Linked DNA regions of Homo sapiens. The protein of the gene in region 2 purifies or fractionates together with the protein of the main gene of each other region. This does not show direct contact. Each region holds a gene or a part of one and is shown on either strand. Other genes may lie near its edges. The genes, in order: MRC2, ECE1 and NRCAM.

What was found.
Region 1: the proteins of ECE1 (region 2) and MRC2 fractionate together in Homo sapiens (co-fractionation; one large-scale study listed by BioGRID). This does not show direct contact.
Region 3: the proteins of ECE1 (region 2) and NRCAM fractionate together in Homo sapiens (co-fractionation; one large-scale study listed by BioGRID). This does not show direct contact.

What each region holds. Positions count from the first base shown.
Region 1 is NC_000017.11:62,679,637-62,683,285, reverse strand, and holds part of MRC2 (C-type mannose receptor 2 precursor), read right to left. Parts: intron 3,487-3,649; coding exon 3,384-3,486; intron 3,117-3,383; coding exon 2,978-3,116; intron 2,869-2,977; coding exon 2,833-2,868; intron 2,487-2,832; coding exon 2,326-2,486; intron 2,225-2,325; coding exon 2,157-2,224; intron 1,450-2,156; coding exon 1,349-1,449; intron 1,052-1,348; coding exon 909-1,051; intron 1-908. UniProt on the Homo sapiens protein: May play a role as endocytotic lectin receptor displaying calcium-dependent lectin activity. Internalizes glycosylated ligands from the extracellular space for release in an endosomal compartment via clathrin-mediated endocytosis.
Region 2 is NC_000001.11:21,280,464-21,284,112, reverse strand, and holds part of ECE1 (endothelin-converting enzyme 1), read left to right. Parts: intron 1-3,649. UniProt on the Homo sapiens protein: Converts big endothelin-1 to endothelin-1.
Region 3 is NC_000007.14:108,190,805-108,194,453, reverse strand, and holds part of NRCAM (neuronal cell adhesion molecule isoform A precursor), read left to right. Parts: intron 1-25; coding exon 26-192; intron 193-282; coding exon 283-430; intron 431-2,600; coding exon 2,601-2,725; intron 2,726-3,170; coding exon 3,171-3,200; intron 3,201-3,649. UniProt on the Homo sapiens protein: Cell adhesion protein that is required for normal responses to cell-cell contacts in brain and in the peripheral nervous system. Plays a role in neurite outgrowth in response to contactin binding.

The DNA.
Region 1 (3,649 bases), on a different chromosome or scaffold from region 2:
TGTTGGTCAGGCTGGTCTCGAACTCCTAATCTCAGGTGATTCACCCGCCTCAGCCTCCCAAAGGGCTGGGATTACAGGCATGACCCACCACGCGCAGCCAAAAAAATGTTTTAAACTTAAAAGTATTTAAAAATCTTTAGCTAATGTTTTATACTCTTTTGTTCTTATACATATTTTACTATATATAATATTAGTCATATTAGTATGGAAGTAGGTTTTATTTACACACACATATACATATATAAGTTAAATGTACACACACATAGTTTGGTCATGTAAGCTCAATATTTTGTTTTACTAATAGGAGTTCATTATCAAAATCTTTGATAATCAGGCCGGCAATCAGGCCGGGCGCGGTGGCTCACATCTGTAATCCCAGCACTTTGGGAGGCCAAGGCAGGTGATCACCTGAGTTCAGGGGTTCGAGACTAGCCTGGCCAACATGGTGAAACCCCATCTCTACTAAAAATACAAAAATTAGCCAGGGGTGGTGGCAGGTGCCTGTAATCCCAGCTACTCGGGAGGCTGAGGCAAGAGAATTGGTTGAACCCAGGAAGCAGAGGTTGCAGTGAGCCGAGATCGCGCCACTGCACTCCAGCCTGGGTGACAAGAGTGAAACTCCTTCTCAAAAAAAAAAAAAAAAAATCTTTGGCAATCACTGATCTAGAACACTCACCAAATTATTTGGACAACCTTGCTTCCCGGAGGATTGGAAGGTGCTACTACAGTGAGTCATTTTCCAAGGAGTCTGGCCCTGGTACTGGAGCCAGGTGAAAGAGAAGTTGGTGGGTACAGGCAAGAGGCCATGAGTTTGGTGCTGCCAAAAGGCCAGGACTCCTGAGGCTCAGCCTTTCCCTGTTCACGTCCTCTCCCCTGACTCCCTTGGGTGCCCCATTGCCACCTCCTACCTTGTTGAGGAACTGGATCCAGTCAGAGGGGCAGCCCCCCAGGGCTGTAGTTGGCAGGTCTGGGGGCTGCGTTTCTTTGGTGACGTTGCTGCGCTTGCAGATGTAGGGCAAGGCTGTCAGGCACCTCTGGTCCCCCCAGTCCTCTGCGGAAAGGGGAGGGGAGGGCAGTCACCCCCAGGGCAGAGCAGGGCAGGGCATGGCTGGCAGCACACTCAGCCTCATGCCCTGAGAGGAGTCTGGGCAGAGGCTCAGGGCCTGTGTCCAGCTCCGAATTCAAGTCTTCTGGACCATGGAGACAGGTCCACCCCTCGCTGAGTCTAGCCTTTATTGGGTTGTGGGAACAAAGAGAATGAGAACAGACTGATGACTTCTGCCCAGGCTCGCCCAGCATTAACCCTTTGCACAGCTGACTGCGCACTCTGCCCCCACCTTGCCCTCACCTCGGCTGGCTGTCATGTACACGCACTTCTTGTCCTTGCCGACAGGCCGAGGTTTGCCTGGTGCCCAGGAGATGAAGTTTATAATGGAACCATCTGTCCATCTGCAATGGCATGGAGCAGAGGTAACTCCAGCACCGGCCCCCAGCTGGGCCTCCACCGGATGCAGCAATGAAGGCCGCAGGAATGGGGGCAGGGAAGGGCCCAGGTTCTGGGGTTTAGTGGCTGTAGGCTGAGGGGTGGAGCTACTGAGCTCAGGGCAGTCAAAGACCCAAGGACCTGGTGCCTCTAGATAAGGCCCCAGCTGTCCCTGGACACTTGCTGCTCCAGAAAAGAAGCCTGAGGACTCCAGGGCAGGAAGCCCAAGGGCAAAAAGACAAGCTCAAATTCTGAGTCCCAGGTGCTCCTGGTCCTTCCTGCCTCAAGCCCCCCAGTACATGGTAAGTAGGCACCAAATACAAAGAGGCCCCCGGATCATCATATGTTCTGCCCACTTCCCCGAGAGGGCCTTAGTCATGATGAATGACACCAGACGTAACAGGAGCTGCCATTATTTAGTAACTAATGTGCTGGATGCTGCGTAAGCACTTCGCATATGTTATTTCTAATCTTCACAAAAATCTTACCAGGCAGGCCTCATATTCCCATTTTCAGATGAGAAAACCAAGGCCCAGAAAGGTTAAGTATCTTGCTCAAGGCCACACAGCCAGCAAGGAAGGGGCAGGGCTGGATTCAAATGCAAGTCTGCCTCTGTGCTCCGTGTGTGGACAGCCAGCCCCCTTCCACATCTGCTGCCTGCCTGGGTTCCTACCTGAAGCGCCCATCGCTCTCAGAGGTGTGCAGGCCGATCCACCAGTGCTGCTCCTGGGCCCGGGAGAACTGGAGAAGCCAGGCGGGCAGGTGTGGGTAGGCAGCCCCCTGCCCTCATCCCGGGCCTGCCCTCCCCCAGCCTGCAGCCCCCTGCTCAATCCAATGCCCACCTTCTGCAAGTTGTGGCTCAGGAAGTCTAGCTCCGCCTGGCTGTGCACCGAGGTCAGCTCGGCCTGGAACCACGTGCAGATGCGCTGCGCCTGCGCCCACGTGGAGTGGTGCTCAAAGAACTTGTACTCGGCCTCCTGGAAGCGCAGCCATTCCCGTCGGCCTGCAGGAGCAGCGCGGGCGTGGGAGCGGCGGCCAGGCAGAGGCTGCACGCCAGGCCCCGGAGGCGGGCGCGGCAGGGCCGGGGCAGAGCCAGGCGGCAGCAGGCGAGCCTGCAGGCACACCGGACCCAGGCAGGCACCGTGCCAGGCCCCAGGCCCCAGGCTTGCCTCGCCTCCCACACGGAAGCAAACAGGGCTGTGGCTGCCTCCGTCCGAGCCAACCCCGTCCCCCTTCTCTCGACCGGAACTCCTCATCCCCTCCATTTCATTCAGGCCTCTCGGGACTTACCCCAGAGTTGACGCCCTCTCCCACGCGATGGGTAGCGGGATGGGCTGGGGGGTGCTCACCTTGAGGGCTGTCGTCGGGCTCCCGCACGTCCGTACCTAGGGGAACAAGGACAAAGACGTTGTGAGGAAAGGAGACCCTCCCTGGAATTCCTGGCCCCGCCACCCTTCGCTCCATCCCGCGTCCCCCAGCGCCACTCCGGCCAACCTCTGGGGATCTTGCAGATCCAGTCCAGCTGTGTGTCGCACTGCATGGCCACCCACTGCAGGGAGGCCAGGTCCAGCACCGCACAGCCTCGGATGTCGTCGTCGTCGTGCCGGCTCCGGTCGAAATTGTGGTAAGAGAACTGGAGGAGGCGGGTGGAGGGAAGAGGAACGTGAGGCGCAAGGTGCAGGCCGCCCCCATGCCCGGAACAGGTGAACAAGAGGCCTGGCCTGAGCTGCGAATTCTCACCGGGGGCCGGGTGACCCCTCTCGGACCTGCTTTCCTGAAGCCGGCTCCGACTGGGGGCCCGGCCCTCAAGAAAACCCGCCCACCTCCAGGCCCCGCCCCAAACAGGCCCCGCCCACCAAGCTCCCGGCCTCGCAGTCCCAAGTACCCCAGGCCCCCTCACCCCTACGCCGTCGCTCCAGCGCCAACTCTGACCCCCTCTGGGATCCCGACGGTTCAGGCCGATCCAGAACCAGTGCTGCTCGTGGATCTCGGGTTCTGATTCACTTCAGCACAACCCAGGAGTGGGGACGGAAGAGATGGGAAGTGAGAGGGGCAGGAACCCAAACGTGCCCCCTGTCCCTTGCAGCTGTGACCGGGGCAGCCCCCAGGGCCTGGGGCCTCTCCATCTGGGCTTCACATTGACCCATCGATACAGCGTTGAGGTCA
Region 2 (3,649 bases):
CGAGGCCAGCGGCCATTGGAAGCAGATCGGTGCCCTGACTCACGGCCCAGCCCTTTCCATTGCACCCAGGAATTGGCCACCCTGCCCTGGAGAGGCCTCCTGATCCTGGCCTAGTACCTCTAGGTGACTTCTCCTGCCCCAGGGTGAGGCATCTGGATTCGTTCTGCCTTTAGAGACAAGGCTTATCCAGAAACCATGAGGCCCGTAGCCGATAGTACAAGTCAAGCAAAGAACAAGACAAAGGTTAAAAACTCCATTTTCAAACTCCATTTGCCATTCTTGCCTGGAACTATGAATTTTTAATTCAATTCTGGCTTAATTTTAATTTAATTTTGCAGTGAACACCATCTGTTTAGATTCAGCACTTTGCATCAAACAGTGAGGGTCAGCTCCACTTCCTGTGGTAGGTCTGCGGCTGCCAGTCCTGGAGACGTGGGTTGCCTCACTGTTCTCTCTCCTCTCTCCTTGCCTTCATGCCCCGACTTCCTGGGTTTCTTCTGGAGCTAACGCTAATACCTACTCTTAGGAATGTTGTGAAGATAGGCTGGGTGCAGTGGTTCACGCCTGTAATCCCAGCACTTTGGGAAGCTGAGGCGGGCAGATCACCTGAGGTCGGGAGTTTGAGACCAGCCTGGCCAACATGGTGAAACCCTGTCTCTACTAAAAATACAAAAATTAGCCCGGCGTGGTGGCGGACACCTGTAATCCCAGCTACTCGGGACGCTGAGGCAGGAGAATTGCTTGAACTCGGGAGACAGAGGTTGCAGTGAACAGAGACCTCTCCACTGCACTCCAGCCTGGGCGACACAGTGAGACTCTGTCTCAAAAAAAAAAAATTTAAAAAAAATTCAAAAAAAGGAATGTTATGGGCCGGGCGCTGTGGCTCACGCCTATAATTCCAGCATTTTGGGAGGCCAAGGCGGGTGGATCACGAGGTCAGGAGATTGATTGAGACCATCCTGGCTAACACGGTGAAACCCCATCTCTACTAAAAATACAAAAAATTAGCCAGGTGTGGTGGCATGTGCCTGTAGTCCCAGCTACTTGGGAGGCTGAGGCAGGAGAATCTCTTGAACCCGGGAGGCCAAGGTTGCAATGAGCCGAGATGGCGGCACTGCACTCCAGCCTGGGTGAGAAAGCAAGACTCCGTCTCAAAAAAAAAAAAAAAAAAAAAATAATGTTGTGAAGATAGAATTGCACTATCAAAATAGAATTAATATGATCCCAGGCCCTTAGCACTCAAGTATTTATTTGCTGCCATTGTTCTTTTTTCCCTTTCCTATCCCTCTGTTTCTTTCATCTTCCCCTTCTGTTCCTTTCTTCTCTCCCTTCTCTCCGCAGATGGCTTTGCTCCTTGCTCTTAGCTGTCTCCTTGTCGCCCACACCATGACATTTCCCTGTACATTTAAGGTGAGGTTTTCCTGCATCCCAAGCCTAGTGGCTGCATCCTTTGGCTCCCTGGAGCCAGCACCAGGCACAGGGGTACCTCTTTTCTTTTCTTTTCTTTCTTTTTTTTTTTTTTTTCAAGACAGCGTCTCACTCTGTCACCCAGGCTGGAGTGCAGTGGCGTGATCTCTGCTCATTGCAGCCTCCAGCTCCCAGTTTCAAGTGATTCTCTCACCTCAGCCTCCCCAGTAGCTGGGATTACAGGCATGAGCCACCATGCCTGGCTAATTTTTATATTTTTAGTAGAGACAGGGTTTCACCATGTTGGCCAGGCTGGTCTCAAACTCCCAACCTCAGGTGATCCGCCCACCTCACCCTCCCAAGGTGCTGGGATTACAGTCATGAGCCACTGCGCCTGGCCTCTTTTTTACTTTTTTGAGATAGGGTCTTGCTCTGTTGCCCAGGCTGGAGTGCAGGGGCACAATCATGGCTTACTGCAGCCTCGACCTTCCGGGCTCAAGCAATCCTCCCACCTCAGCCTCCCAAGTAGCTGGGACTACAGGTGCATGCCACCATGCCTAGCTAATTTAATTTAATTTTTTTTAAGAGATGGGGTCTGACTGTGTTGCCCAGGCTGGTCTTGAACTCCTGGGCTCAAGCCATCCTCCTGCCTCAGCCTCCCAAAGTGTTGAGATTATAGGCATGAGCCACCATGCCTGGCTGATGGGTACCTCTTAAACCAAGGTCTCATCCAGGTGCAGTCCAGCACTTTGGGAGGCTGAGGCGGGTGGATCACGATGTTAGGAGTTCGAGATCAGCCTGACCAACATGGTGAAACCCTGTCTCTACTAAAAATACAAAAATTAGCCGGGCGTGGTAGCACATGCCTGTAATCTCAGCTACTCAGGAGACTGAGGCAGGAGAATCGCTTGAACCCGGGAGGCAGAGGTTGCAGTGAGCCGAGATCGTGCCATTGCACTCCAGCCTGGGTAACAGAGGGAGACTCCATCTCAAACAAAACAAAACAAAACAAAACAAAACACTGTCTCACGGCCTCCTTGTGCCCTGTGAGCTGAGCCATGATAATGGGGACATGAGAAGCCTAAAGGAGGAAGGATGAAACAAATTAGGGGCAGCAGGACACATACGTCAGTGTCCCTAGGCAAGGCAGTCCCTGCTTCAAGTCCTTGGGACCCCTCTGAGTACCAGAGACCAAGGTAAAGTGTGTGAGATAACTGATTACTCTGAAAAAGCACTTTATAAACATTTGAGTACAGTGTACATGTTAGCATCATACCAGGCTGTCTCTCTCTGCACCAGGCCCTCACAGCCTGAAGTTTTAATTCATGGTCTGAAACTTTCATTGCTCACTTTTTCAGAAGAGATTCTTGAGGGATTTGAGCGGGCGGCATCCCTCCCACTGCCTGACCCAGCTGCTTCAGTGTCTGAGCCTCCTGGGCCTCCACGGAAGTGTCTCTAAGCCCCAAGATCCTTTGCTCAGTTTTGTTTTGTTTTGTTTTGTTTTGTTTTGTTTTCCGAGACGGAGTCTTGCTCTGTCGCCCAGGCTGGAGTGCAGTGGCGCAATCTCAGCTCACTGCAACCTCCGCCTCCCGGGTTCAAGCGATTCTCCTGCCTCAGCCTCCCGAGTAGCTGGGATTACAGGCGCCTGTCACCACTCCTGGCTAATTTTTGTGTTTTTTAGTAGAGATGGGGTTTCTCTATGTTGGCCAGGCTGGTCTTGAACTCCTGACCTCAGGTGATCCTCCCACTTCAGCCTTTTAAACTGTTGGGACTACAGGCATGAGCCGCCGTGCCCGGCCCCTTTTCTCAGTTTTGGAACCCAGTTTTTTTTTTTCCACAGAAAGTGCTTGTGTTCCTCCATCTCTGGTGCAGCAATTCCCAGTCATTTCCTGCCCAGTAAATACCTAACCATGGCCACGTGGCTTCTCAGTACCCTTCCCTCAACTGACCCACTTCAGATCCCCGAGTGCCAGGGTGGGACTCCCTCAGGGCTCTGACCCGGCACCAGGGGCACCCCTCAGGCTGTTGGTGGGGCCGTTGCAGGTCAGAGTCTGAGTCTCCTCATCTTCCCTGACAGCTTCCCCTCTTCCTGGCAAGCCTTGCTCCCTCCACCCTGCCCTTCCCAAAGGGTAAATCTAATCATGTCACTCCAGTCCTCAAGAGGAAGTCCAGGCTCTTAACCTGGCTTTCTGTGCCCCTTAGGATCTAGGCCCTCCTCTCCTCTCCACTTCCATTCCTTCTT
Region 3 (3,649 bases), on a different chromosome or scaffold from region 2:
CATTGTGATAATTTCTGTAATGAAGGTTTAAAGGAGCTAAAGGAAGTGCTCTTCATGAAGATATTTATGTTTTACATGAAAATGGAACTTTGGAAATTCCTGTGGCCCAAAAGGACAGTACAGGAACTTATACGTGTGTTGCAAGGAATAAATTAGGGATGGCGAAGAATGAAGTTCACTTAGAAATCAAAGGTAAGGCAGAGGTAATGTGTTTAATTTTTAAATGACTTTGAACAAATTCTCCAGCTTTGCCAAATGGATAACGATGACTCTACATTTCAGATCCTACATGGATCGTTAAACAGCCCGAATATGCAGTTGTGCAAAGAGGGAGCATGGTGTCCTTTGAATGCAAAGTGAAACATGATCACACCTTATCCCTCACTGTCCTGTGGCTGAAGGACAACAGGGAACTGCCCAGTGATGAAAGGTATTTGAAGACGATTTCTTTACTTTCTCTTCATTCTTTCTTTAAGCTATTCTTGAACTAAAGGTCTACTATGTAGTCAATTATGGTGATGTTTTTAGTTTCTGAAGTCTGCTGTCTCCAAAATAGAGAGATAAGCATTTTCTCCCTACTGTAAAATATATGCACCCAAGAAGGTATCAGGTGATTGAAATAGGACCCTGAGAATGTTTGTCTATCTTTGCGTGCTGGTCTCTTGTGTAATTCAGGATGGGAAAAAACCCTCAGGCCTGGACAGCATCCATTGTTTTATACCTTGAACAGCGAAGTCTCAACAGATGTTTTCATTACCTTTCTACAAATAAGCAGAAATATGACCTCTTTAATCACCAAAGACTGCTCAAATCCTTGTCAGTATTTTAAGACACTCGTTTTTATTTGGATAGGGAGTTTTTCTTTTGATTTTACCTAAAGCCAGTGAAAGGGGAAGGAAAAACAAAAACAGGTAGAGCATTTAAAAGAGCCCAAGCATGCTGCAGATTTCATTAAGAATGGAAGAAAGGTCATGGCATTTTCCAGATGAGACCCTCAATTTGACATAGTAGTACAGAGTAGATATGTGTTAGTTTTAGCAAAGTGGCTATAGGCCTCACTCTCTATTAGAAGGAATGCTGTATTCTGGTCGAAATCATTTGTGTGGTTCACCTACAGCTGACCTAAAATTGTGGTGCCTAAATATTGCCCTGTTGCTTGTCAATGACCCTGGAAGAACTCTGTGGCCTTCTCTTTTATGTGCCTAGAGTCTCCATCTAATTTTATGCTTGAACTAGTCAATTTTATTTGTTGAGTTGATAAAGATGAAAAGGTGTGGTGGTCTCACACCTGTGGTCCCAGCTACCTGGGAGGCTGAGGTGGGAGAATTACCTGGGCCCAGAAGGTTGAGACTCCAGTGAGCCATGACTGTACCACTGCACTCCAGCCTGGGTGACAGAGTGAGACCCTGTCTTTAAGATTAAAAGGAAACATAAAGAAATGACCATCAGGTTAAGGTGGCTGAAGCTTTTACTTGGAAATTAACTGAGAAGACAGTTTATGACTTAGGCAGTTTCATTAAAATAATACACTAATTCTCTATACATTAATTTTTTGATCTACTGAGCAATTTTTCATGCCCACAAGTTCCCTCTAGAAAAGTCTTAGAGAGATTGTTCATCTAAATCTTCCTGTTTCTAGTGATAAAGCAAATTATTATTCTTTGCATTTAATTTCTCCTATGAGAGTTTATACATGTAAGAAAATGACATGATTTTCTGCAGTAAATAATAAAGTATTTAAAATATATACTTTGATAGAAATTGAACTGAATGAGTGGTTTTCCAATGTTTCTTGGCAGCAAAAGCCTTAGTAAAGCCCTTTAGTAAGGCTAATGCTGGAACTATTCTTCGCCTCCTTCCCCTGGGAACTTAAGGAAGCTCCTTCCTCTCCCTCTAGAGCAGTGGTCCCCAACCTTTTTGGCACCAGGGACTGGTTTCATGGAAGACAGTTTTTCCACGGACAGGGTGGGGGCACAATGGCTTCAGGATGATTCAAGCACATTACATTTACTGTGCACTTTATTTCTATTATTATTATGTTGTAATATGTATATACATATATATATTATTACATGTAATATATACAGTGACAGATCATCAGGCATTAGATTGTCATAGGAGAGCACAGTCTAGATCTAGATCTCTCACTTGCACAGTTCACAATAGGGTTCACCTTCCTGTGAGAATCTAATGCTGCCACTAATCTGACAGGAGGCGGAGCTCAGCTTCACTCGCCCCATTCCCCTGGGGCCTAAGGAAACTCCTACCACACCCTCTAGAGCAGCGGTCCCCTCTGCAGCCCAGTTCCTAACAGGACAGTACCCAGTTCTTGGCCCAGGGTTTGGGGACCCGTGCTCTAGAGGCCTGGTTGAAAAATACTGTGCCAGAGGACATATCCCTTCTAACCCAATATTCTAATTGATTCTCATTGTTTTTCAACTTTAATCATTCTTAAAGTGATATGTATTTTGCTCTAACTTTTGAAAGTGTTTACCATCTTTCTCCTTTATCAAATTTACAGTTTTTTTCCTGCCAGTGAAGCAATTATAGGGTACGGCTGCATGTCCATTTCAGCTGCTCTGAATGCATTCTATCCACAGGTTCACTGTTGACAAGGATCATCTAGTGGTAGCTGATGTCAGTGACGATGACAGCGGGACCTACACGTGTGTGGCCAACACCACTCTGGACAGCGTCTCCGCCAGCGCTGTGCTTAGCGTTGTTGGTAAGAACGAAAACAAAAATAGCACAACTGGCTTCCCTGCATTTGGTTGAAAAGAAAAAATAAGATAAAAATTATAAATATCAAATATTTGCTTGTTAATATGCATGGGTGAGTTCATACCCATGTTTTTCTTCTTTGAAAGATGCCTTGGAGGCAATAATTTCAGTATAAATAGACTGTGTAGCAGCACTGGGTGAAATGGTGGATATGCACATTAGTAACCTTTTTTGTAATAAAATAAGGAGAAATGATCTACTTGTATCTAAAATTGAAGGTTTTTTTTCCTAAATTGTTACTGCATGTTTATCAATGCTGTGTCTCACAGCTAAGCATAGGGCTTAATTTTATAACCTTGAATAATGTACAGTCTTTGTCATCTTGTGCTATCTTGTATCTTTCCATTACTAATTTTGATTAAAATCCTTTATATTAATGTCCTTTCTAGCTCCTACTCCAACTCCAGCTCCCGTTTACGGTAAACTAATATGAGTCTTCTTTCTCTGTTTTCTGTCAAACAATTTCACATTTGCAGAAAGTATTCATAACTTTCTTTTCTATGTCACATAATTGTGTTTCTTAAGGAAAAGGTCTCTGTCAGTTGTTATGTTGTGTCACCCATTTACTGACAATGAATCATTTCTTCATCATAACCACAGATTTTTCACCAAGTTCGTTGCCAGTTCTTTCTAAATAGTTCATGTGCTATTATAAAATCACTTCGTTTGATAAAAGTCCCTCTTTGATGCAATTTCCTTTTAAAGTAGCATAGTGCTTTTTCAAAAGCCATCATCCACATTTTACAGAATGAAAAAGCTATTTCTAATATCATTCTACAAATTAGGCTTTCATCTCAATTTATTAAAAGTTGTTTGGGAAAAATCTTGTTTTGGGATTCCATTTTCAAGAAATGTATATGGGGAAAAA